Homo sapiens: one gene and its partners. The protein of the gene in region 4 binds, or shares a complex with, the protein of the main gene of each other region. Each region holds a gene or a part of one and is shown on either strand. Other genes may lie near its edges. The genes, in order: RBL2, LIN52, LIN9 and TFDP2.

Region 1 (5,711 bases), on a different chromosome or scaffold from region 4:
GAGAAAACTGTAGGCCCAGATGGCTTCATTGGTAAATGCTACCAAACATTTAAGGAAGAAATAATGCCAATTCTATAGAAACTCTCCCAAAAAGTGAAGGTGATAAATGATCTTAGTGTTTGAAGGAAAGCATCTGACAAAATCCAACATTCATTAATGTAAAAACTCTCAAGGAACTTCCTCAGCTTGGTAAACATTTACCAAAAGCATCTACAGATATCATACTTAATGGTGATAGACTGAATGCCTTGCCCCTGTGATCAAGAACAAGGCAACAATGTCCACTCTCACTACCCCTGTTCAACATTGTAACTGGGAGTCCTAGCATGTGCAATAAGACAAGAAAAGCCATACAGCCTGGATTGTCTACATAGGAAAATCACAAAGAATCCACAAAAAGCTACTGGAACTAATAAGGGAGGTTATGTGATCAACATACAAAAATCAAATGTATTTCTATATGCTAGCAGTGAACAATCAGAAGTAAAATAAAAAATTGAATACCATAACATTTTAAAATTACTTAGGGGTAGGTATGATAAAAACTATGCAACACATATATCCTGAAAACTATAGAAGCTTGGTGAGAGAAATTAAAGCCTGAGAAGATACAGAAATGTGTTCATGACATTGAATGAAAATAATACCTTAGTTTCCAATTCATGGAAAATAAAACAGCAGTTTTCTCCCAATTGATCTATAATTTCAAACCAATTTCAGTCAAAATCCAAACAGATTTATGTAAAAAACTGATTCTAAAATTTGTCATTTACAAGGCAAAGAACTCGAATAGCTAAAATAATTCAAAGGTGGAGGATTCACACTAATTATGAAGGTACACAAAATATCTGTATTATAACACCACAGTAATCAAGACAGTAGTGTTGGTGGAAGTATAGACACAGAGATCAATAGAACAGAACAGAGTCCTGAAATAGACAACACATGTATGGTAAACTGATTTTCAACAAAGGTGCAAAGGCAATTTGGTAGAGAAAGGATAGCCTTTTCAACAGATGGTGCTGGAACAATTGGATGTGCATATAACAAAATAATAGTAAACTTGTTCCCATACCCTGCACTATATACAAAAACTAAAAATGAACCACAGACATAAATGTAAAATCTCAAACTACAAAACCTCTAGAAGACAACAGAAAATCTTAGTGAACATGTTTTATGGGAAAATTTTATATACAACATCAAAAGCACAATCCGTAAAATACTGTTAAAATGGATTTTATCAAAATGAATAATTTCTGCTATTTGAGACACTGTTAAGAGAATTAAAAAACCAGCCATAGACTATTAGAAAATCTGTACACGTTCCATATCTGATGAAGCATTTGTATATCTACAGTATCTAAAGAATTCTCAAAATTCAGTAGGAAAACCACCAAATGTAAAAGTGGGCAAAAGATTTGAACACACTTCACCCATTACATGCCTGTTAGAATGGCTAAAATCCAAAAAGTGACAAATCGTAAGTTCTGACAACAATGTGGAACAATTTTACATATTGCTGGTGTGAACGCAAAATGGCATCGCCACTGTGGAAAGTTGTTTCTTAAACATACCATTATACAACCAGCAATCTCATTCCTAGGTATTTACACAAATGAAATGGAAACTTATGTTTAGACAAAATCACGTACATGACTGTTTATAGTGACTTTCTTCCTAATTGCCAAAAAGTGGGAAACAACCCAAACGTCCTTCAGCTGGTGAATGCATATAAATAAGCTGTGGTGCATCCAGACAATCGACTGCTACTTTGCAATAAAAAGGAACTGATATATTCAATGTAGATAAATCTCAAATGCATCAATGCTTAAGTGAAAGACACTGGATTCAGTAGGCTACTTATGATTCCATTTCTGTGACATTGTGGAAAAGGCAAAACTATTGGACAAGAACATCAGTGGTGGTTTGGGATAGGCTGACAAGGGAGTATGAGGGATTTTTTCAGAGGAACAGTTTTATCCGACTGTAGGTATTTCTAGCACAGAATTGGGAGTCTGTCCAGTAAAATGATAGCGATTATTAGACTCTTGGTTGGAGAAAGATTTGTCATCTTGACGTAATAGGTGATAGCTGAAACTTACGGGGAGAATATTACAAAGCAAGAAGGGGGAGAATATTACAAAGCAAGAAGTAGCTTATGTCTAGAACCAATCTATAACGTACTAACATTTAGACTACTATGAGAAAATAATTATCAAATACTATACAAGATCAGTTAAGATGAAGACTGATCATTAGTGATACTTGACAGAGCAGTGTCAGTGCACTGGTATGACTTGTTGAAAAATAAATTATGGTAGCATTGCTTATACACAATTAACAATGTATACAGTAAACAGTGTAAGAAATATTCAAGCAAATGGGAGACTGCAGAGATAGCAAATGCAGACCAGACTCTTAGGAAGGCAGAAAGGGGGCTAGAAAAAGAATTGAAGGAAAGCTTTCTTCAGATGCTTAAGATTTTGTGGCCAGGTGCAGTGGCTCATGCCTGTTCCCAGCACATTAGGAGGCCAAAGCAGGAGGATTGCTTGAGCCCAGGAATTCAAGACCAGCTTGGACAACATAGTGCAACCCCATTTCTATTGTTAATTAAAAAAAAAAAAAAAATGAAAAACACTTGTGAAGGTACATCTGTTGATAATAAAGAACACTGATTTTCATTAAAACCCCCAAAACATTTATTACTTTAAAGAATAAAAATAACAAGTGTCATGATAAAATATGTCTGGGATTTGTTTTAAAATAATCTGGGGAATGGAAGTGAATCAGAGTATAAATCAAACAAGGCTGGCCAAACATGCTGAAGTAGAGGAATAGGTATGTGAGGATGCATTATGCTTCTCTACTTTTGTATGTTTACAATTTCCTATAATAGATATCTGTGAATTTGCTTAGTATGCTTTCTGTAAGCAAACATGGATGAAGCAGCACATGAAAAAGAATTTTAACCAACAAACTAGCAGAAAATAATGTGACAGACGACTTTTAGAGGCTTTGGAGAAACTGAATGCTAAAGGTGCTGTACAGCCAGCCCCAGTCTTTCTGACATTCTGGCAGTGTCTTTCTCAATTGCAGCTCCTCATCTGAGCCACTGTCCAGAAAATAATTTGAGTAACTTTAATCCTCAATTCTCCCAAGGATAGTACCATTCTAGATCTTACTAATTTATTAGCTACAATGGATACCTTAGGGGGGGATTAAGGCCTACTTTTCTAGTGAAATCCCAGTTGAGAATGGCTGCTAAAAACTGAGTAACATTAGACTGAAAAAAAGGGAATATTGTATAAAGTTGTACTTTAAAAAAGAGAAAAAGATGTGTCTAAGTGACTATCAGATAGCAATGTAATGCTCCCTAATTGTAAAAAAAATCACAAATTTGTGAACTCACAAATTATAGACATGTATAATTGACCTACAGGTCAAAAGTGCCTGTGGAAGAGCTTGTTAAAAATAGAACTACTCAGCCCCTTCTCAAATAGCCATCGGCCTCAGCCAGCTGAAAAGTAAAGTTGGCAGGTTATGTAACTTAGTGTTTCTTTTCTCTGTAGATGTGTTCAAACTCTTCCAGGGTAAACTGCTTAACTCATTTGAGATTCTTTGACTTAATACTGAGCTATGTGCATTTGCATTTTAAAATTTTTGTATCTTTTTCCCACCATAGAGACTGAGAGAAATTAATAGTATGATACGCACAGGAGAAACTCCTACTAAAAAGAGAGGAATTCTTTTGGAAGATGGAAGTGAATCACCTGCAAAAAGAATTTGCCCAGAAAATCATTCTGCCTTATTACGCCGTCTCCAAGATGTAGCTAATGACCGTGGTTCCCACTGAGGTTAGTCTCTTGTATTAAACTCTTCACAAAATCTGTTTAGCAGCAGCCTTTAATGCATCTAGATTATGGAGCTTTTTTCCTTAATCCAGCTGATGAGTTACAGCCTGTTAGTAACATGAGGGGACATTTTGGTGAGAAATGGGACTTAACTCCTTCCAGTGTCCTTAGAACATTTTAATTCATCCCAACTGTCTTTTTTTCCCTACCATTCAGTGATTACTGTCAAGGCTGCTTAGAATCCAAACTTGGATTTTTGACTCTGGCAAAGCTTTTAGAAATACTGCAAGAAAATGATGTGTACCCAAACGTGAGCATAGGAGGCTTCTGTTGACGTACTCCAACAGAAGAACTGTGTTTCAAGTTCAATCCTACCTGTTTTGTGGTCAGCTGTAGTCCTCATAAAAAGCAAAACAAAAATTAGGTATTTTGTCCTAAAACACCTGGTAGGAGTGTGTGATTTTTTGCATTCCTGACAAAGGAGAGCACACCCAGGTTTGGAGGTCCTAGGTCATTAGCCCTCGTCTCCCGTTCCCTTTGTGCACATCTTCCCTCTCCCCATTCGGTGTGGTGCAGTGTGAAAAGTCCTTGATTGTTCGGGTGTGCAATGTCTGAGTGAACCTGTATAAGTGGAGGCACTTTAGGGCTGTAAAATGCATGATTTTGTAACCCAGATTTTGCTGTATATTTGTGATAGCACTTTCTACAATGTGAACTTTATTAAATACAAAACTTCCAGGCTAAACATCCAATATTTTCTTTAATGCTTTTATATTTTTTTAAAATGTTAAAACCCCTATAGCCACCTTTTGGGAATGTTTTAAATTCTCCAGTTTTTTGTTATATAGGGATCAACCAGCTAAGAAAAGATTTTAATCAAGTTGAATTGAGGGGATTAATATGAAAACTTATGACCTCTTCCTTTAGGAGGGAGTTATCTAAAAGAAATGTCTATTAAGGTGATATATTTAAAAATATTTTTGGGTGTTCCTGGCAGTTTAAAAAAATTGGTTGGAGAATTTAGGTTTTTATTAGTACCATAGTACCATTTATACAAATTAGAAAATGTTATTTAACAGCTGAATTATCTATACATATCTTTATTAATCACTATTGTTCCAGCAGTTTTCAAGTCAAATTAATAATCTTATTAGGGAGAAAATTCAATTGTAAATTGAATCAGTATAAACAAAGTTACTAGGTAACTTCATATTGCTGAGAGAAATATGGAACTTACATTGTTCAATTAGAATAGTGTTCTGCAAAAATATTTATAAAACTTCTCAAGATACTGCTACTGTAATTTTATATGAAGATAAGTGTATTTTTCAATAAAGCATTTATAAATTAGCCTTTGTTTGGTTATATTGAGAAAAGGGTAGTTTCCTGCATAAATGGCAAAGAACAATCATTTATTGGTTTATTTTGTCTCTACTAAACACATTAGTCATTTATCATTTAAATACCGGACTTCATTAGAAACCGTTGTAACACTTTTTCTCCCTCCTGCCATAAAAATACAGTAAGTAATTTGCTTAAAAAAAACAACACAACACTAGGAACAAGTGTTCTGGTTTCTTCTCACTGAACTAAAGACATTTCTCAGTGATTTCAGTTTGTAAATCAGTAAGACAGTGCAGGCTACAAATCAGTGCAGGCTGAAGACTGAGATTCAAATGATCTTCCACTTAAAAGTGCTGAGCTATGGAACCTGCTCTCTCTATACCTCTCCATTTCCTAACATATATACAACTGAAACCACTGATTTATAAACTATTAAGTAGTGCTGAATTCTGTCTGCTCTATTAGTTTAAATGAATGCAACTTACCTTTAGCATTATATTCAGAAAAATACTT
Region 2 (7,033 bases), on a different chromosome or scaffold from region 4:
TCTACAAAAAAAATTTTTTAATTACCCAGGCACGGTGGTACATGCTTGTAGTCCCAGCTACTTCAGAGGCTAAGGTGGGAGGATCACTTGAGCCCAGGAGTTGAAGATCAGCCTGGGCAACATAGTAAGACTCTGTCTATTTAAAAATGAGATAATAACCTGAAGGGATTTCAATATACTTTTACTGTATAAAGAAAAATCGGCCGGGCGCGGTGGCTCACGCCTGTAATCCCAGCACTTTGGGAGGCCGAGGCGGGCGGATCACGAGGTCAGGAGATCGAGACCATCCCGGCTAAAACGGTGAAACCCCGTCTCTACTAAAAATACAAAAAAAATCAGCCGGGCGTAGTGGCGGGCGCCTGTAGTCCCAGCTACTTGGGAGGCTGAGGCAGGAGAATGGCGTGAACCCGGGAGGCGGAGCTTGCAGTGAGCCGAGATCCCGCCACTGCACTCCAGCCTGGGCGACAGAGCGAGACTCCGTCTCAAAAAAAAAAAAAAAAGAAAAATCATTTGTTACCTAGTAAATCCAGTAATTATTCCACCACACTCCACCATAAAAAGTCAATGAATTAGATTGACTTCTTACCTTCAGAATGCTTCTCTTTTCCCTAATATACTTTCTGAATTATAACTGGAGCTCAGGGTGGAATACCTGAGCTCAGGGTGGAATACACAGCTCAGGGTGGAATACACCCCTGAACAAATGCGATCGGGGTACTCACACTCATCCAGCCCCAGCTGATAGGCTAGGTTCTGTAGGCCTCGAACCTTCTCCATCAAATTAGCCGTGGTGAGACTCCCCAGTTCTGAAACAGAATCATTTATTTCAACATCATTTCTTTCCACTCTTCTCTAGTAGCAACTTCCTTGGGTTGGGAACTCTTGTTATACAAGTTTTCAAGCTTAATTACCACTGAATAAGTAGAAAATGGATCCGTAACTCCTCCCCCAATCTTAAACACACACAAATCAGGGAATTTTCCCACTATTGCAAAATTCCTCAGATAAGCTTACCCACTTAATAAGAAAAGAACTAGCATAAAAACAGAATTAGCTGGGCATGGTAGCACATGCCTTCAGTCCCAGCTACTTGGGAGGCTATGGCAAGAGGATCACTTGAGCCCAGGAGTTCAAGACCAGCCTGGGCAATGATACCTCACCTGTATAAAAATAATGCAAAAATTCAGCCAGGCATGGTGGCTCATGCCTGTAATCCTAGCACTTTGGGAGGCCAAGGCGGGCAGATCACCCGAGGTCAGGGGTTTGAGACCAGCCTGGCCAACCTGGCGAAACCCTGTCTCTACTAAAAATAGAACGATTAGCTGGGTGTGGTGGCAGGCGCCTGTAGTCCCAGCTACTCAGAAGGCTGAAACAGGAGAATCACTTGAACCTAGGAGGCAAAGGTTGCAGACAGCTGAGATTGTACCACTGCACTCCAGCCTAGGCAACAAAGTGAGATTCCTTCTCAAAAAAAAAATATAAATAAAATAAAATTAGCTGGGTATGGTGGTGTATGCCTGTAGTCCCAGCTACTCAGGAGGCTGGGATGGGAGGATCACCAGGAGGTCAAGGCTGTAGTGAGCCATGATGGCACCACTGCACTACAGTCTGGGTGACAGAGTGAGACCTTTTCTCAAATAAAAAAAGAAAAAAATAATAAAGTAACAAATTAAGTGATTCATCCTCAGGAAACATTATTTATAACATTTGTTTGGAATACATCATTAAAATGTAAAACCTTGTCTTTTGATAGCATTAAGAAAGCCTTGAAGACAGATCTGATCTGACAAAATGGACACTGTCTCCACTGTTAATTGTAAGTCCACATTATTTCGACTTATAATAAAGTGGCAACAAAACACTTACTATTCCCCATTTCCCTAAGTTTAGAAAACAAAGACTAAATAAAAATCTAAACTTTCCCTTCAAATCAAATTCCTATAAAAATCTTTAAGTTTACTAAGTAAAAAGACAGCATACTGTTGGAGGTTAGGAGCAAATGGAGTTGGTTAGGTCAGATCTCTTTCACCATCACAGTTACAATTCTGCAATGGCAGTTTCACTGTTGGGTGTTTCTGTGCTTGAGATATTTTGCAGGCCTTGCATTTGATGGATCAGTTGGTACCACCCAGATCAATAAACTGGTTCATCTGATCTTGTGGCCCCCACCCAGGAACTGACTCAGTGCAAGAGGACAGCTTTGACTCCCTGTGATTTCATCTCCAGCCCAATCAATCAGCACTAGCAACTCACTGTCCCCCCAACCCACCAAATTATCCTTAAAAACTCTGATCCCCAAATTCTCGGGGAGACTGAGTAATAAAAAAAACTCCAGTCTCTTGCACACACATACACACACACACACACACACACAAAGACAATACTTAAAAATGTTCTTTCCTGAATTTTTATTTAAATAGCACCCAATTCCTTTTAGGTTTAAGACACAGGTCAGTTTGCATAGAATATAATGCTATGATCCCTCACTAAAAATTTAAAGTTGCCTTAAGAAATACATGCTGATGAGATATTATATAAATGTCTGTTTGAAACATTAGAAGAATGAACCTGAGATGCCCTTGAGACTTAATTTTTCCATGGCAGGAGGAGGGAATCTGCATTTAAGCATTTCATAAAGAACAATGAATTACTTCTAAAATCAAATAAAGGTGTTTTTTTTTAATCTCATTTATCATGCCACAGTCATTATCTACACCTAGCATAAGTAGACTTTCTTGATATGTTCAGCTGTTTAAATACCTCAAGAATCCCAGGTTTTTACCTTAATTTCAGTCTATTACTTCACAATCATCATGAATCTTATCACCAGAAGGATGATAAAATAAATAAAGTAGGGCAAAATCATGGAAAATTAATGTTTTTTAATTTAAATTTCCACTTTGTGATTGAGTTTCAAATCATTTATCAAACAACAATATTCACTACTTATAGTATTCTTTATAGAAGAAATTGATGGGATAAAAAAATAAAAAATAGGTCTTAACCCACTAAGAGGTTGTCATTTAATAGTACTGACAATATATGGCAGTAAATTCTAAATAAGGCACTTGTGTTATAATGGAAAGAGGCTAGACTTAAAAAAGCAGAGTTTACGCGGGGCGTGGTGGCTCACGCCTGTAATCCCAGCACTCTGGGAGGCCGAGGTGGGTGGATCACTGGAGGTCAGGAGTTTGAGACCAGCCTGGCCAACATGGTGAAACCCCATCTCTACTAAAACTACAAAAATTAGCTGGACGTGGTGGGGGATGCCTGTAATTCCAGCTACTCGGGAGGCTGAGGCAGGAGAATCGCTTGAACCCAGGAGGCGGAGGTTGCAGTGAGCCGAGATCGCACCACTGCACTCCAGCCTGGGCAACAAAAGCGAGACTCCGTCTGAAAAAAAAAAAAAACCAGAGTTAAAATTTTTTAACTTTTTTTTTTTTTTGAGATAGAGTCCTGCTCTGTCAGCCAGGCTGGAGTGCAGTGGAACTATTGTTCGCCACAACCTCTGTCTTCTAGGTTCAAGTGATTCTCCTGACTCAGCCTCCAGAGTAGCTGGGATTACAGGAGCTTGCCACCATGCCTGGTTGATTTTTGTATTTTTAGTAGAGACGTGGTTTCGTTATATTGGTCAGTCTGGTCTCAAACTCCTGACCTCCAGTGATCCACCCACCTCGGCCTCCCAAAATGCTAAGATTACAGACATGAGCCACGCCTAGCCAAATTTTAACTCATTCTATCTTGGTTAACTTATGAACTTTGAATATCATCATACCCAACTCACAGGACCTTTATGGGAATTAAATGAAAAAATTTATGTTAGAGCTATTCGTTAACTGTATTATACAAAATCAGGTTCACATTAGAAGAATTTAGCACCAGCAGCAGAATTCACTATGACTGAGTCTTGAATTGGCAGGATTTCTACACATGGAAAAGGTAGAGAAGGGCATTGCAGACATGAAAAACTACAAATAAGGAGGTTTAAATGAGAAGTCTGAAGCCAAAAATACTTGTAAGGAAACAGAAAAAAAAAATAGAGAGGTGGTCTATGGAAAAACATAAATATCCAGTTAAAAGTGGTAACTAGCATCACTTACCTTTCAACATGTCGATGTCATCACGTTCTATCTCAGCCATCCATTTGGGTGGAGAACTAGTAATAGGCTGTCAAAAAATAATATATCCATTCAGACACATAAAAAGTGTGAGGAGACCCTATTATTCTTATAAGAAGTGTAGCCTGGGCCGGATGCGGTGGCTGCCAAGGTGGGCGGATTACTTGAGGTCAGGAGTCAGGAGTTCGAGACCCGCCTGGCCAACATGGGGAAACCCCATCTCTACTAAAAATACAAAAAAAATTAGCCAGGCGTGATGGCACACACCTGTAATCTCAGCTACTTGGGAGGGTGAGGCACGAGAATTGCTTGAACCTCTTGAATGTGGGAGGCAGAGGTTGCAGTGAACCAAGATTGTGCCACTGTACTCCAGCCTGGGTAAGAGTATTACTCTGTCTCAAAAAAAAAAAAAAAAAAGAAAAAGAAAAAATGCAGCTTGTCACATAGCCTTCAGGTTGTTTGGAAATACTGGCAGATTATAATTTCAAAAACCTGGATTTCTCCAGGTTTAGATATGGCCTACAAATAGTCACTGCAAAAAACATGGCTCATCTTGAAAGTCAGTCTCAGAGAAATCACTGTGGAAGAATAGGTATGACCACTATTACTGATTTATGCCTAACAAGTTAGTATAGCAATGAATGAAATTACTTGAAATTCAGTTCTGGTGAAAGCCTCCAATTCAACTGTTTGAAACACTAATCAGTAAGTAACATTCTCTGGCATACGGGAGATTCAAAGAAGAATCAAGAATGAGAAAATCATCATTTTAAGTGAGAGAAGTCTGGAATGGTCATCACTTGGAATTTCACAATTTTATTGTAGAGGTTTTAGGAAACTTCAGAATTTTACAATTTTTCATTTATGAAAGTGAACTTAAAACTATGAAAGAAAGCCCATTCTTAGAATAGCTCTGGGTTGGCAGTTTAATGCTAGTTGCACACGAGAATCACCTGTGTAACTTTTAAAACTATAAATGCCTTGGCCACACTCCAGACATAATGATTTAGAATATGAGGGGTAGGGAAGGGTCCAGTGGAAAAAGTAGAGCAAGGGACTCCTCATATGTGCTTTTCTTTTTTTATATTTAATTAATTTTTTTCTTGGTGCTCATTTGTTACAGTGCATTTTTCAAGAGCTCCATAGCTGCATGTTGATGATTCTGTCATGCACAAAAGGTAGGGTTGAGAAACATTATTTCAGCTTTGCGTCTTTCTCTTTTTTTAATTAAAATGTACTCAGAACCTATTATGTGACAAGCAAAACACTTTACATGCATCAAGTCATTTACCTCCAAATCAACTCTATAAAGTAGGTATTTTTTTCACATTAAAAAAAACAAAAAAACAAAAACACATACATTGGCTCACACCTGTAATCCTAATGCTATGGGAGGCTGGAGCAGGAGGATCACTTGAACCCAGGAGTTCAAGACCAGCCTGGGAAATATAGTGAGACCTCTTCTCCACAAAAAATTTTAAAAGGCCAGGCGCGGTGGCTCACACCTGTAATCCCAGCACTTTGGGAGGCTGAGGTAGGTGGATCACTTGAGGTCAGGAGTTTGAGACCAGCCTGACCAAGATGGTGAACCCCGTCTCTACTAAAAATACAAAAATTAGCTGGGCGTGGTGGTGGGCACCTGTAATCCCAGCTACTCAGGAGGCTGAGGCAGGAGAATCGCTTGAACTTGGTAAGTGGAAGTTGCAGTGAGCCGAGATCGTACCACTGCACTCCAGCCTGGGCGAAGAGTGAGACTCTGCCATAAATAAAATAAAATAAAATAAAGAACAGAGATCTGAGCTTTTACTCAGGAGCGAAACTTTGGATTGACCTCAGTAGGTAAGGGATATTACTTACACTTTTGAAGGAAGCTGCAAATTCAGCAACACCTGGTACTAAAAAGAAAAACAAAACTTTATTTATTCAATAAGTATGATTGCTCAGGCATAGAAGATCCAAATAATAAGAAAACAGCTTTGTCTGTTTTCTTATAGTTTAGAAGAAGAGAAAGAATAAACCAATAACTATAACACTGTTTCAGTCCTCAAAGAAAGATGCCAGGACTATGGCAAGACAAAAAATGGCAAGCTAAGTCAGACCCAGGGGGCATAAAAAGCTTCTCAAGGAAAATAATGCCTCAACTGAACTTGGAAGGACCAGGAGTTAGCTGGTTGGGAGGGTGGTAAGATACAATATCTCTTACCAGAAAGTTTAAACTGCCTTTTTAGAGATGCTGTTCTGTCAATCCAATTTTATTTATTTAAATTTCTCACAGAAAGAATCACATTAAAATGCAGAAAAATAAAAATCAGGGCTGGGCATTTTGAGAAGTCAAGGCAGGAGGATCCCTTGAAGATCAGCCTGGGCAACAGGGCAAGACCCCAGACTCTACAAAAAATTAAAAAACGGGCCGGGTGCAGTGGCTCATGCCTGTAGTCCCAGCACTTTGGGAGGCTGAAGCGGGTGAATCACTCGAGCTCAGGAGTTGGAGACCAGCCTGGGCAATATAGTGAAACCCCGTCTCTACAAAAAATACAAAATTTAGCCAGGCGTAGTGATGTGCCCCTGTAGTCCTAGCTACTTGGAAGGCTTGAGCCCGGGAAGTTGAGGCTGAAATGAGCCATGATCACACCACTGCACTCCAAACTGGGCAACAGAGGAAGACCCTGTCTCAAAAAAAAAAAAAAAAAAAACAGTTAGTTGGGCATGGTAATGCACACCTATAGTCCTAGCTACTTAGGAGGCTGAGGCAGGAGGATGGCTTGAACTCAGGAGTTGGAGGCTGCAGTAAGCTATCATCGTGACATTGCACTTTAGCCTGGGTGATAGGATGAGCCTCTGTCTCTAAAAAAAATATATAATTAAAATAACATCTTTGCCTGAGCTCAGGAGTTGGAGACCAGCCTGGGCAACAC
Region 3 (7,033 bases), on a different chromosome or scaffold from region 4:
GTCAATAGAAGATTCCCTCTAACAATTTGAATCTATTTTCCCATACCCAACAGGCGGGTCCTTAATATAGTTTTATATTCGATGAGCTGCTAATACCCTATATACCCTATTTAAAAATCTGGGTCAATAATGTAGTAGAAAGAAATAACACTTTTTGTGATAAGAATATTTTATAGTAATTTGGTTATTTATGCTAAACATCTCCTCACTTATAAATTTTTTCTTTTTTCTTCTTTTTACATTTAATTTTTTTTTTTCTCCTGAGAATGGTCACTGAGGGAAAACAAAGAAAAACAAAGTTATTTTTCTAAATGCAGTGTGGTATCCTGAATTGGTTTCTGGAACAGAAAAAGGATGTTGGTGAAAAAACTGGTAAAATCCAAATAAAGCCTGTAGTTTAGTTAATAGTATTGCACTAGTTTTGACAAATATACCAAAGTTACTATAAGATATTGATGTTAGGGAAAGCCAGGTGAAGGGCATGTGGGAATATGTACTATCTTTGCAACTTGCCTGTAAATCTACAACTTTTCCAAAATACAAAGTTTATAATAAAAATTTTAAAATTTTGACCCTAACTTACCATTCCAATATGTACTTCCCTCATACAGTGGCAGCCACTATAATTAGTTTGATTATCCTTATGAAACCTTTTAAATATACTTTTAATGTATTCATAGAAAATATTTAATATTGTTAAATGTATATATATTTTTTCTTTTTCTAAATGTATGTATTCTAAAAATTACATTTGTAGTATCATTTTCATGGTATTGTGCCATGTGTCATTCTGTAATTTTTTCACTGTCTTTTTTTGAGATCTGGCCATGTTGATTGATTGAGATAATCGGATTCAGTGTTTCATTTCTTTTTACTATTGAATAGTATTCAATTTTATATCATTATTTATAAATTCTCCCATTTGGGAGCATTTAAATTGTTCGTAAATTTTTACTTTGACAAATAATGCTGCAGTGAACATCCTGAGCATGTTTGTATAAATTTGCAAGTTTTTTTCTAGGACAGATGCCTAAGATGTGGAATTGCTGGATCGTAAATTATGTACATTTAAAGTTTTTAAAGCAGTACCAAATACTCTCCGAATAAATTGAACTGGGACCATGCACAGTGGCTCACACCTGTAATAGCAGCACTTTGGGAGGCCGAGGTGGGCAGATCACCTGAGGTCAGGAGTTCAAGACCAGCCTGGCCAACATGGCAAAACCCCATCTCTACTAAAAATAGAAAAATTAGCCAGGTGTGGCGGCACGTGCCTGTAGTCCCAGCTACTCGGGAGGCTGAGGCATGAGAATAGGTTGAACCTGGGAGGCGAAGGCTGCAGTGAGCCGCGATCGTGTCAGTATGCTGCAGCCTAGGTGACAGAGCAAGACGCTGTGTTAAAAAATTTTTTTAAAAAAAGGAAAGAAATTGTACTGGTTTATATATATTAGAGTTCCTATTTTCCAAATGCCTCCAACTCAGTACAGAACCAACCATCTAGATTTTTGCTAATCTGATATATAGAAATAGCCTTGGCCGGGTGCGGTGGCTTACGCCTGTAATCCCAGCACTTTGGGAGGCCGAGGTGGGCGGATCACGAGGTCAGGAGATCAAGACCACCCTGGCTAACACGGTGAAACCCCGTCTCTACAAAAAATACAAAAAATTAGCCGGGCGTGGTGGCGGGCGCCTGTAGTCCCAGCTACTCGGGAGGCTGAGACAGGAGAATGGCGTGAACCCGGGAGGTGGAGCTTGCAGTGAGCCGAGATCGTGCCACTGCACTCCAGCCTGGGCAACAGAGCGAGACTCCATCTCAAAAAAAAGAAAAAAAAAAAAAAAAGAAATAGCCTCTCACTTGTTTTAGTTGGCATTTTATATAAGAGCAAAGTTGAGACACTTTTCATATGTTTAAAAATTATTTCTTTCCTTTTCTGTAAACTGTTTATGCCTTTTTCCCATTTTTCTATTGGATTGTGGGTCATTGTGTTACTAGTTTATAAGAATTTTGTATATATTAAAAATATTGGCCCTTTGGATGTTTATAATGGCTGTAATTTTTTTTAGAGTTTATAGTTTGTCTTTTGATTTGTTTCTGTATTTTTTAACATATGGGATTTTAAAATATTTTAAGGATCAAATGTAACTTTGTTACCTTTTAATGACTTCTTGAGTTTGTCATGCTCAGAAAGACCTTTTCTACACTAAAATTTATCATTTTAGAATTCTCTCATATTTCATTTTTTTGGTTTGAACCTTCAGTACATCTGGAATTTATTTTGCAGTAAGGGATGAAGTAAAATTGCAACCTAGCTTTCCCACCCCCCCCCACCCCCCCCCCCGGAGGACTACTTAGTTGTCCTAGTAACATTTATTGGGTAATCCATCTTTTTAAACATTGATTTAAAATGCTGCCTTCATCAAAGCTAAATTCGTATAAGTATTTGGGATTACTTTCAGGCTTTCTATCTCTACATCTAGCATATCTCTATATGTGCTAGTATCAAATTATTTTGGCTGGGCATGGCAGCTCATACCTGTAATCCTAGCTCTTTGGGAGGCTGAGGCAGGAAGATCGCTTGAGCCCAGGAGTTTGGGACCAACCTGGTAACATAGCGAGAGCCCGTCTCCACAAAAAATGCATGAATTAGCCCAGTGTGGTGGCACATGCCTGCAGTCCCAGCTACTTGGGAGGTTCAGGTGGGAGGATGGCTTGAGCCCAGGAGGTCAAGGCTGTAGTGAGCAATGTTTGCACCACTGCACTTCAGCCTAAGTGACAGAGAGAGAGACCCTGTCTCAAAAGAACAAACAAAACCAAAACACACACACACACACACACACAAAATTGGTTTAACATGACTTTATACTGTGTTTTAATGCCTGGTAAGATATTATCACATATTCTTTTTTTGAGATTTTTTTCCTTTTCTTTCTTTTTTTTTGACATGGAGTCTCACTCTGTCGCCCAGGCTGGAGTGCAGTGGTGTGATCTCTGCTCACTGCAACCTCCGCCTCCCAGGTTCAAGCTAGTCTTCTGCCTCAGCCTCCTGAGTAGCTGGCACTACAGGCACAGCCACCACGCCCGGCTAATTTTTGTATTTTTAGTAGAGATGGGGTTTCACTATATTGGCCTGGCTGTCTGGAGCTCCTGACCTTGTGATCCGCCCATCTCGGTCTCCCAAAGTGCTGGGATTACAGGCGTGAGCCACTGCGCCCAGCATAAGATTTTTTCCTAAATATTTTTGTGCATTTATTTTTCCATGTAGACTTTAGAATCAACTTGACTAGGAAAAAAAAATCCTGTTGGCATTTTGACTGGGATTGGACTAATATTATAATTTATGGGAAATGATATATATAGGTAACATTGAGACTACCTAAGAACTGATTGTAGTTCCACTTAGTTCATAGTATTTCACAGTAGACTTAATTTTTTTCCATATCAGTCTTGCATGTTTCGTAAGTATATTCCTACATATTTAATTTTTTTGTTTATGTCCATTTTTGTGCTGTTATAAACAGGATATAAACTCTTATGGCCTGTCCAGTTATTATTTACATATAGTGATTTTTTTGAATCATGGTTTTTGTATATCAACTTTGTATTTACCCATTTCATTAAATTTTCTTACTGTTTTTAATTGTTACAGTTGATTTTCTTGAGTTTTCACCTACAAGGAAATGGTAGTTTTATCTTCTTTCTAAATTTTATTCTTCTTACCTGATTGGCCAATTCCTTCAAAACAGTGTTATGAAATAGTGGTGGTAGTTGAAATCTTTGTCATACTAGGTTAGTGGTGGTAGTTGAAATATTTGTCGTTCTCATCGTCTTTTAATATTACGATACTGGTTTTTGGGTTGGAGTGGGGAGAAATGTTTTATTAGGTTAAAAAAGTATCCATCTAAGCTGGGCGCTGTGGCTCACACCAGTAATCCCAGCACTTTGGGAGGCTGAGGCAGGCAGATTACCTGAGGTCAGGAGTTTGAGACCAGCCTGGCCAACATGGTGAAACCCCATCTCTACTAAAAATACAAAAATTAGCTGGGTGTGGTGGCGTGCGCCTGTAGTCCCAGCTACTTGGGAGGTTGAGACAAGAGAGTAGCTTGAACCCGGGAGGCAGAGGTTGCAGTGAGCCGAGATTGTGCCACTGCATTCCAGCCTGGGCAACAGAGCAAGACTGTCAAAAAAAAAAAAGGCAATAATCAAAAATAATCGGAGTGTTTAAAACAGCAACAAAATTCCATGTTGAATATCAGTGAATCAGTGAACCTTTTTAAGTACTTAAACATAATTTACCTTTTGCAAATTTATTCAGGGTTATAAATGTTCATTTTTACTTAATGGAGCCATAAATTAATCTCTTTTTTTTATTGTATAGAAATTTACAGCAACAATGTCAACACCAGATAAGAAAGCTTCACAGAAGATTGGTTTTCGATTACGTAATCTGCTCAAGCTTCCTAAAGCACATAAATGGTGTATATACGAGTGGTTCTATTCAAATATAGATAAGTATGTATCATGGCTTATATTATGAATATTACTTGAATCAGAAATTTAAGTTTTTCAAGTGTTTTAAGCTACAACATTTTCTATAGGTCTACTTTGATCTTATTTTTCTCTAAATTCATTTTTCTGTTCCACATTCCAGTTGGATCTATTCTATTTGTCATAGTTTTCTTCCCTGTTATCCTTTTTGGGGAAGAAAACTGTACATTTTTGTGAAGAATTGATTACGGTATAATTTCTGTGTTAGAATTCTTAAAGACTATGGAGTAGAGATACCTTAAAACACCATTATTTGCAGTGAATGAGATTCATTTTATAATTGAGATGTTAAGTGCTGGTATAATCATAGAGAAACCATTACTAATGGTAAAAATGGCTTAAGATTTTTAAGAGGGTAGTCTTTCTAGTTTGGATGTGGTACTTAAGCACGCTAGGTATACACATATGCTTAAGTATGACGTAGTATGAGATTTGGCTGAAATACAATTATTCAACAATGGAATTTACTGAGGAAAAGTTCTTATTTATAATCCTTCCTCATATGCCAGTCATTGCTGCTTGCTCTGCTGGATATTTATATTTTCTTCCCTTCTCTGTTTTCTATACCAATTGCCTACTCTGGAGCTTGTGAATCTCATGAATGTTCATATTTGAGCCCAAGGCATTTATGTATCATTGCCAACACTGGTTCCTGGTTTCCCAGACTCATGAATAGAATTGTTTTATTTTTGTCCATAGGCTTAAGAGAGTTTTCAGGGTGTCTCAGTGTAATCTGAGTTCTTCTGGGATCCCCCAAGCTAATCTAACCCTCTGGAGTCCTCCAGTGTCCCAAGACTGGTTTAATTCCAAAGAGGACTCCTTGGTGATGGTATTCCTTTGGGACAAAGATACTTTGTAGCTAACTTGGTTTATCTTCACCTGATACAAGGCCAGGGCCACGATAGCCTCCCAAAGGATATACCTGTATAAGAGATTGAACAAAAATCAGTGTCTCTTGGAATCACAACACAAATAATATTTCCTGAGCAACTTTTACACGACATTAGATGTTTCACAAATGCCAAGGATTTAGTTTTAGCACTTTGAATTTGTGCCAGTTTATATATATATATGGGGTAGAAGTGAAAGTTTAGCATTTTGTGATTTTATGTGTTTTAAGAAAGTAACACATTGTATGTAACCATTAAAATACTATATCTGTTTTACAGACCACTTTTTGAAGGTGATAATGACTTCTGTGTATGTCTAAAGGAATCTTTTCCTAATTTGAAAACAAGAAAGTTAACAAGAGTAGAATGGGGAAAAATTCGGCGGCTTATGGGAAAACCACGGAGGTAAAAATAATGTTTTTGTTTTTGTTTAAAATAAAATCAAGCCAGTAGCAGTGCATGTACTTATAATCCCAGTTACTTGGAAGGCTAAGATGGGGTATTTGCTTAAGGCCAGGGGTTCAGGGCTGTAGTATGCTGTGATTACACCTGTGAATAGTCACTGCACTCTAGCCTGGGCAACACAGTGAGACCATTCCTCTAAAAAAGAATTAAAAAATAAAATCAATAAATAATAGTTGTTAGTATCATTAGTACATTGATTTTTTTAATCTTTAAAATGACTAGTACCAAAACATAACTTTTCAGAATAATTGATTATATGTTAAATATATCCTGTTAACCAACTTTAATGTAGGTGCTGTTTATACGTATGCATCTTATAATTAAATGCACAATTTCATTTTTGTTAGGATCACAGGTTTTCAACGTAATTTTTTAGTTTTACATTATCTATGTCCCTCTGTGTTCCAAAAAATATTTAAGAATGTCCTAAAAAGTATTTAAGGATGCTGTAAAGTTCTGTGTACATTTTTGTTATCTTTTGTGAAATCCTTTATAATCTCAGGAGCCTTCCCAGAAGTGCCTATTTTATTTTATATAAAAGTAGAAAACAAATTAATCTATCTAATATGTTACTTCCTGAGAATTGCTCTTCATGTGAAATGATTTTTTCTTTTCCAGTGTTATCCTGGTAACACATTGGAAAACCTTATATTACTTTTGAGTGAAAATTGGAAATATGTTAGAAGAATAATTAGATCATTAGTTCTCACATTATGTCTATCTGCCTGGTAAAAAGTATGTGCAAGACTTTTTCATTTTAAATGGTGGGAAAGTTCAAGGAAGGTCTGTAAATATAAAGTGATTTGGACAAATAGAAATGGAATTTAGATTTAATGATTTCTTTAGATGGTGATGAAATACAGAGAGAACTTTTAATTAAACTGTCATCAAGATGACCTTGATGATGATGTTTTTAATATTTCTTATAATAACAAAATTAAAATTTGATATGTTATTTAGTGTGTTTCATACTCATAATTTATGGCCTTTGGTAATTACAGTAGCCATTTGGTGACTTTTTGCTATCATTTTGCGTGTTTGAGCAAATTGAGTTACACTGTTTCTAATTATTGTCCATCAGAGTGGGATATTGGTCACTATTTACTGTTTTGTCATAGTTCTGTAGTTTGAG
Region 4 (7,033 bases):
ATTTACTAGTTAAGAAGATTAACTTTGGGGCTAACCTTCCTGTGTTTAGATCCTAGCTCTGCAGTTTATCAGCTGGGTAACCCTGAGTAAGTTATGTAAACACTCTGGGCCTAAGTCTCCTCATCTCTAATATGGGGTTAATAATAGTGTCTATCTTACACAATTCTGAAGATAATTAATATATATATATAAGTCATTTAGAATGGGTTGTGGCATCCCAGTACTATGTATGTATGATACCTATTTTACTATTGGTTTCCTTGTCAACTAAAATTGTTGAATTATTTTGTTCATGCTCTCTCTGTTCTTAAAGTCATACTCTCTCAATTCTTTAATAGAATATTTTTTGGTAGGACTTTACATGTATCTATATTTTTATTTTGTAAGATTGCTTCTAGTCTGTTGACATTAAAAAAATCCTGATTTGGTCATCCAATAAATATCAAATCTATGCATTTGATAAACATACAAGTTTGATAATTTTGGCATTGCTTTCATGCAAATTTTTCACTAAAATGCTGTCTAGGCAGGGCTGAGGTCAGAGTTCTTTACCTGCTAAAGACCTCTCTTAAAGGTGATAAAAAATTTTATTATTAATTCTTTGGTTCAGGTTGGTCACCCAATTAGAAATTCAGCTAATTTTAATCATCATCTACCTCATATGTTTCCAAGTTCTCATAAGGAATATGTGAGGAACTTTGACAGTTGCCTTACTAAAACCCAGATTTTATATGCTTCGTTTTCTTTACCCTATCATTACTTGTCCTTAGTGAAACTATACTATATTCCAGTAGCATATGTTAATTACTACTTTTTTGTCTTTTTTTTCGGAAAAGGATTATTTATTTATTTATTTATTTATTTAGAGACAGAGTCTCTCTCTGTCACCCAGGCTGGAGTGCAGTGGCCTCCTGGATTCAAGCAATTCTCCTTCTCCAGCCTCCCGAGTTGCTGGGTCTGCAGGCGCTTGCCACCATACCCGGCTGATTTTTGTATGAGAAAAGGATTTTTTAATTCAAGTAAAAATGTGGAATGCTTTAAGAATTTGTGTGTCATCATTGCACAGGGGCCATGCTAATCTCTGATTTGTTCCCGTTTAGTATATGTGCTACTAAGGGAGCACTGATTACTACTTTTTCTAAGTGTTCACAAACTTCTCTTAGTAATGATGCTAGAATCATGTCTAAAATTACATCTAACTTCAGTGATCAATAGTTGGCAGGATCCCATTTCTCTTTTTTTGAACACGAGTACTACATTTTTCTGTCTTTAGTCTTCTGGCAACCTCTCCTGCTCACCATAGTTCCTAAATGATTGCCAACAGCTGTGTGGAATTTTATTTGGAGCAATATACCTTGTTGAAGGTTTACTTAGAGTAGTTAGGAACTGTCTTTTATCTTCATGTTCATATTGAGCTTTCATTTCCTCCAGTTCATTGATAAATTTATTAAATGCCCATTTTGCACAAGATATCAATGCTTGTTTTACTTGAGCCATCGGAAGAGAATTTTTCTTAATAAAAATGCCTGAAGCAAAAAGGTAATGTACATCTATTTCTCTCCATTCCTCCTATTGTTAATATTACCGTAGTCTGCCACCATTCCTTCTTTAGTGTACTGCAGTAATAGCTTCCTGTTAACCTTCCTTCTTCCAGTCCTTTTCTGTCTCTGGTCCTTATGTATGGCAGCCAAAGTTATCTTTGTTTTAAAAATGCATGTATGTTTTAAAAGTCGTTTCTGGGAGGTGCAGTGACTCACGCCTATAATCCCAGTGCTTTGGGAGGCCGAGGTGGGCGGATTGCTGAGCCCAGGAGCTCAAGACCAGCCTGGGCAACATGGTGAAACCTGTCTCTACTAAAAATACAAAAAGTAGTCAGGCTTGGTGGCATGTGCCTATAGTCCCAGGTACTCAGGAGGCTGAGGTGGGAGGATCTCTTGAGCCCAGGAAGTCAAGGCTGCATTGAGCTGTGATCGTGCCACTGCACTCCAGCCTGGGCAACAGAGTGAGACCCTATCTCTAAATAAATAAATAAATAAATAGGAATAAATAAATAACTAAGTATTTTCTTTCCTAGTGGCATAAGCTGTAATCTAATTAGAATTTGATTTCTGAGCATAGTACTTTCCAACTCCCTTTTTCTGTTTCCTCTTTACTGTCCTTTTAAATTCAAACCCCTCCACCCCTGCTGCCCCGCTTTTTTTTTTTTTGAGACAGAGCCTTGCTCTATTGCCCAGGCTGGCAGTGGTGCAATCTCGGCTCACTGCAACCTCCACCTCCTGGGTTCAAGTGATTCTTGTGCCTCAACCTCCCAAGTAGCTGGGATTATAGGCATGTGCCACCACACCTGGCTAATTTTTGTATTTTTAATAGAGACAGGGTTTTGCCATTTTGGCCAGGATGGTCTTGAACTCCTAACCTCAAGCAATCCACCTCTCTTGGCCTCCCAAAGTGCTGGGATTACAGATGTGAGCCATCGTGCCTGGCCATAGATCTCATTCTTTTTTATGGCCAAATAGTACTTCATTGTATGTATGTACCACATTTTCTTTATTCATTCATCTGTTAACGAACACTTAGGTTGCTTCCAAATCTTAGCTATTGTAAACAGTGCTGCAACAAACATAGGAATGCAGATATCTCTTCAATATACTGATTTCCTTTCTTTTGGCTATATACCCAGCAGTGGGATTGCTGGATCATATGGTAGCTCAATTTTTAGTGTTTTGAGGAACGTCCAAATTGTTCTCTGTAGTGGTTGTACTAATTTACGTTCCCATCAACAGTTTGAGAAGGTTCCCTTCTCTGCACATCCCCACCAGTATTTGTTACTGTCTGTCTTTTGGATATAAGCCATTTTAACTGGGGTGAAATGATAGCTCATTGTAGTTTTGATATGCATTTCTTCGATGATCAGCAATGTTGAGCACCTTTTCGAATGACTATTTGCCATTTGTATGTCTTCTATTGAGAAATGTCTATTCAGATCTTTTGCTCATTTTTTAATGGGATTATTTGATTTTTTTCCTAGAGTTGCTTGAGCTCTTTATATATTCTGGTTATAAATCTCTTGTCAGATAGGTAGTTTGCAAATGTTTTCTCCCATTCTTTGGGTTGTCTCTTCACTTTGTTGATTGTATCCTTTGCTGTGCAGAAACTTTTTACTTGATGTGATCCCATTTGTTTATTTTTGCTTTGGTTGCCTGTGCTTGTGGGGTACTGCTCAAGAAATTCTTGCCCAGACCAATGTCCTGGAGATTTTCCCCAATATTTTCTTCTAGTAGTTTCACAGTTTAAGGTCTTAGATTTAAGTCTTTAATCCATTTTGATTTGATTTTTTTTTTTAGACAGGGTCTTGCTCTGTTGCCCAGGCTGGAGTGCAGTGGCTTGATACCAGCTCACTGCAACCTCAGCCTCCCAGGTTCAAGCAGTTCTTGTGCCTCAGCCACCCAAGTAGCTGGGACTACAGGCATGTGCCACCATGCCTGGCTAATTTTTGTATTTTTAGTAGAGATGGGGTTTCACCATGTTGGCCAGACTGGTCTTGAACTCCTGACCTCAAGTGATCTGCTCGCCTTGGCCTCCCAAAGTGCTGGGATTACAGGCGTGAGCCACCTTGCCCAGGCTGATTTGATTTTTGTGTATGGCAAGTGATATGGGTCTGGTTTTTTTCTTCTGCATTTGCATATCCAGTTTTCCCAGCACCATCTATTGAAGAGACTGTCTTTTCCCCAGTGTGTGTTCTTGGCATCTTTGTGGAAAATGAGTTAACTGTAGGTGTGTGGATTTGTTTCTGGATTCTCTGTTCTGTCCATTGGTCTGTGTGTCTGTTTTTATTCCAGTCCCATGCTGTTTTGGTTACTATAGCTCTGTAGTATAATTGAAGTCAGGTAATGTGATTCCTCCAGTTTTGTTCTTTTTGCTCAAGATAGCTTTGGCTATTCTGGGTCTTTTGTGGTTCCATATAAATCTTAGGATGGTTTTTTCTATTTCTGTGAAGCATGTCATTGCCATTTTGATAGGGATTGCCTTGAATCTGTAGATTGCTTTGATAGCAGTATTGACATTTTAACAATATTGATTCTTTCAATCCATGAACATGGAATATTTTTCCATTTTTTTGGTGTCCTCTTCAATTTCTTTGATCAGTGTTTTATAGTTTTCATTACAGAGATCTTTCACTTCTTTGGTTATTACCTAGTTATTCAATTTTATGTGTGGCTGTTGTAAATGGAGTTACTTTTAAAATTTCTTTTTCACATTGTTCACTGTTGGCATATGGAAATGCTACTGATTTTTGTATGTTGATTTTGTATCATGTAACTTTACTGAATTTGTTTATCACTTCTATTAATAATACTTTTCTTGTGGAGTCTTTAGGTTTTTCCAAATATAAAATTGCATCATCTGCAAACAGGGATAATTTGACTTCTTCCTTTCCAATTTGGGTGCCCTTTATATCTTTCTGTTGTCTGATTGCTCTAGATAGGACTTCCAGTACTTTGTTGAATAACAGTAGTGACAGTGGGCATGCTTGTCATGTTTCAGATCTTTGAGGAAAGGCTTTCTAGTTTTTCCCCATTCAGTATGATACTAGCTGTGGGTCTGTCATATATGGCTTTTATTATGTTGGGGTGTGTTCCTTCTATCCCCAGTTTTTTGAGTATCTTAACTTCTTTGCAACATAAATATTTTATTTAAGACCTATATGTCCTTTTGCAACATATTTCATGCTCTTTTGACTTTTTTTTTTTCTTGAGACAGAGTCTTGCTCTGTCACCCAGGCTGGAGTGCAGTGGCATGATATCGGCTCACTGCAACCTCCGACTCCCGGGTTCAAGTGATTCTTGTGCCTCAGCCTCCCAAGTAGCTGGGATAACAGGTATGTGCCACCATGCCTGGCTAATATTTGTATTTTTAATAGAGACAGGGTTTTGCCATGTTAGCCAGGCTAGTCTTGAACTCCTGGCCTCAACTGATCTGCTGCCTCAGCCTCCCAAAGTGCTGGATTACAAACTTAACCCACCACACCTGGCCTATGTTCTTTTGACTTTAAAAGAAATTAAATAGATCTTCGTTCAAGATGGCCGAATAGGAACAGCTCCAGTCTGCAGCTCCCAGCGTGATTGATGCAGAAGATGGGTGATTTCTGCATTTCCAACTGAGGTACCTGGTTCATCTCATTGGGACTGGTTGGACCGTGGGTGCAGCCCACAGAGGGTGAGCCGAAGCAGGGAAGGGCGTCACTTCACCCAGGAAGCACAAGGGATCAGAAGATTTCCCTTTCCTAGTCAAGGGAAGCCGTGACAGACTGTACCTGGAAAAATGGGACGCTCTCGTCCAAATACTGGACTTTCCCCATGGTCTTAGCAACTGGCAGACCAGGAGATTCTCTCCCGTGCCTGGCTTGGCGGGCCCCACATCCGTGGAGCCTTGCTCACTGCTAGCGAAGTAGTCTGAGATGGACCTGTGAGGCTGCAGCCGGGTTGGGGGAGGGGTGTCCGCCATTGCTGAGGCTTGAGTAGGTAAACAAAGCGGCCAGGAAGCTCAAACTGGGCGGAGCCTACCTCAGCTCAGCAAGGCCTACTGCCTCTATAGACTCCACCTCTGTGGGCAGGGCATAGCAGAACAAAAGGCAGCAGAAACTTCTGCAGACTTAAACATCTCTGACAGCAGTGGTTCTCCCAGCATGGTGTTTGAGCTCTGAGAATGGACAGTCAGCCTCCTCAAGGGGTCCCTGACACCCGTGTAGCCTAACTGGGAGACACCTCCCAGTAGGGGGCGACAGACACCTCATACAGGTGGGTGCCCCCCTGGGACGAAGCTTCCAGAGGAAGGATCAGGCAGCAATAATTGCTGTTCTGAAATATTTGCTGTTCTGCAGCCTCTGCTGCTGATACCCAGGCAAACGGGGTCTGGAGTGGACCTCCAGCAAACTCCAACAGACCTGCAGCTGAAGGACCTGACTGTTAGAAGGAAAACTAACAAACAGAAAGGAATAGCATCAACATCAACAAAAAGGACATCCACACCAAAACCCCATCTGTAGGTCACCAACATCAAAGACCAAAGGTAGATAAAACCACAAAGATGGGGAGAAACCAGAGCAGAAAAGCTGAGAATTCTAAAAACCAGAGTGCCTCTTCTCCTCCAAAGGATTGCAGCTCCTCGTCAGCAACGGCATAAAGCTGGACGGAGAATGACTTTGATGAGTTGACAGAAGCAGGCTTCAGAAGGTTGGTAATAACAAACTTCTCTGAGCTAAAGAAGCATGTTCTAACCCATCGCAAGGAAGCTAAAAACCTTGAAAAAAGGTTATGGCTAACTAGAATAAACAGTGTAGAGGAGACCTTAAATGACCTGATGGAGCTGAAAACCATGGCATGAGAACTTCGTGAGGCATGCACAAGCTTCAAAGGCCGATTTGATCAAGTGGAAGAAAGGATATCAGTGATTAAAGATCAAATTAATGAAATAAAGCGAGAAGACAAGTTTAGCGAAAAAAGAGTAAAAAGAAATGAACAAAGCCTCCAGGAAATATGGGACTATGTGAAAAGACCAAATCTGTGTTTGATTGGTGTACCTGAAAGTGACGGGGACAATGGAACCAAGTTGGAAAACACTCTTCAGGGTATTATCCAGGAGAACTTCCCCAACCTAGCAAGGTAGGCCAACATTGAAATTCAGGAAATACAGAGAACACCACAAAGATACTCCTGAGAAGAGCAACCCCAAGATACATAACTGTCAGATTCACCAACGTTGAAATGAAAGAAAAAGTGTTAAGGACAGCCAGAGAGAAACATCAGGTTACCCAAAAAGGGAAGCCCATCAGACTAACAGCGGATCTCTCGGCAGAAACCCTACAAGCCAGAAGAGAGTGGGGGCCATTATTCAACATTCTTAAAGAAAATAATTTTCAACCCAGAATCTCATATCCAGCCAAACTAAGCTTCATAAGTGAAGGAGAAATAAAATCCTTTATAGACAGACAAATGCTGAGAGATTTTTTCACCACCAGGCCTGCCTTACAAGA

The links.
Region 1: TFDP2 (region 4) and RBL2 share a complex: the UniProt entries of both Homo sapiens proteins name them as parts of the DREAM complex.
Region 2: TFDP2 (region 4) and LIN52 share a complex: the UniProt entries of both Homo sapiens proteins name them as parts of the DREAM complex.
Region 3: TFDP2 (region 4) and LIN9 share a complex: the UniProt entries of both Homo sapiens proteins name them as parts of the DREAM complex.

The regions. Positions count from the first base shown.
Region 1 is NC_000016.10:53,486,445-53,492,155, forward strand, and holds the end of RBL2 (retinoblastoma-like protein 2), read left to right. Parts: intron 1-3,685; coding exon 3,686-3,856; 3' UTR 3,857-5,204; downstream 5,205-5,711. UniProt on the Homo sapiens protein: Key regulator of entry into cell division. Directly involved in heterochromatin formation by maintaining overall chromatin structure and, in particular, that of constitutive heterochromatin by stabilizing histone methylation.
Region 2 is NC_000014.9:74,094,928-74,101,960, reverse strand, and holds part of LIN52 (protein lin-52 homolog), read right to left. Parts: intron 6,014-7,033; coding exon 5,976-6,013; intron 5,299-5,975; exon of another isoform or gene 5,242-5,298; intron 4,168-5,241; coding exon 4,101-4,167; intron 1,817-4,100; exon of another isoform or gene 1,754-1,816; intron 807-1,753; coding exon 723-806; intron 1-722.
Region 3 is NC_000001.11:226,285,141-226,292,173, reverse strand, and holds part of LIN9 (protein lin-9 homolog), read left to right. Parts: intron 1-4,376; coding exon 4,377-4,510; intron 4,511-5,715; coding exon 5,716-5,841; intron 5,842-7,033. UniProt on the Homo sapiens protein: Acts as a tumor suppressor. Inhibits DNA synthesis. Its ability to inhibit oncogenic transformation is mediated through its association with RB1. Plays a role in the expression of genes required for the G1/S transition.
Region 4 is NC_000003.12:142,139,544-142,146,576, reverse strand, and holds part of TFDP2 (transcription factor Dp-2), read left to right. Parts: intron 1-7,033. UniProt on the Homo sapiens protein: Can stimulate E2F-dependent transcription.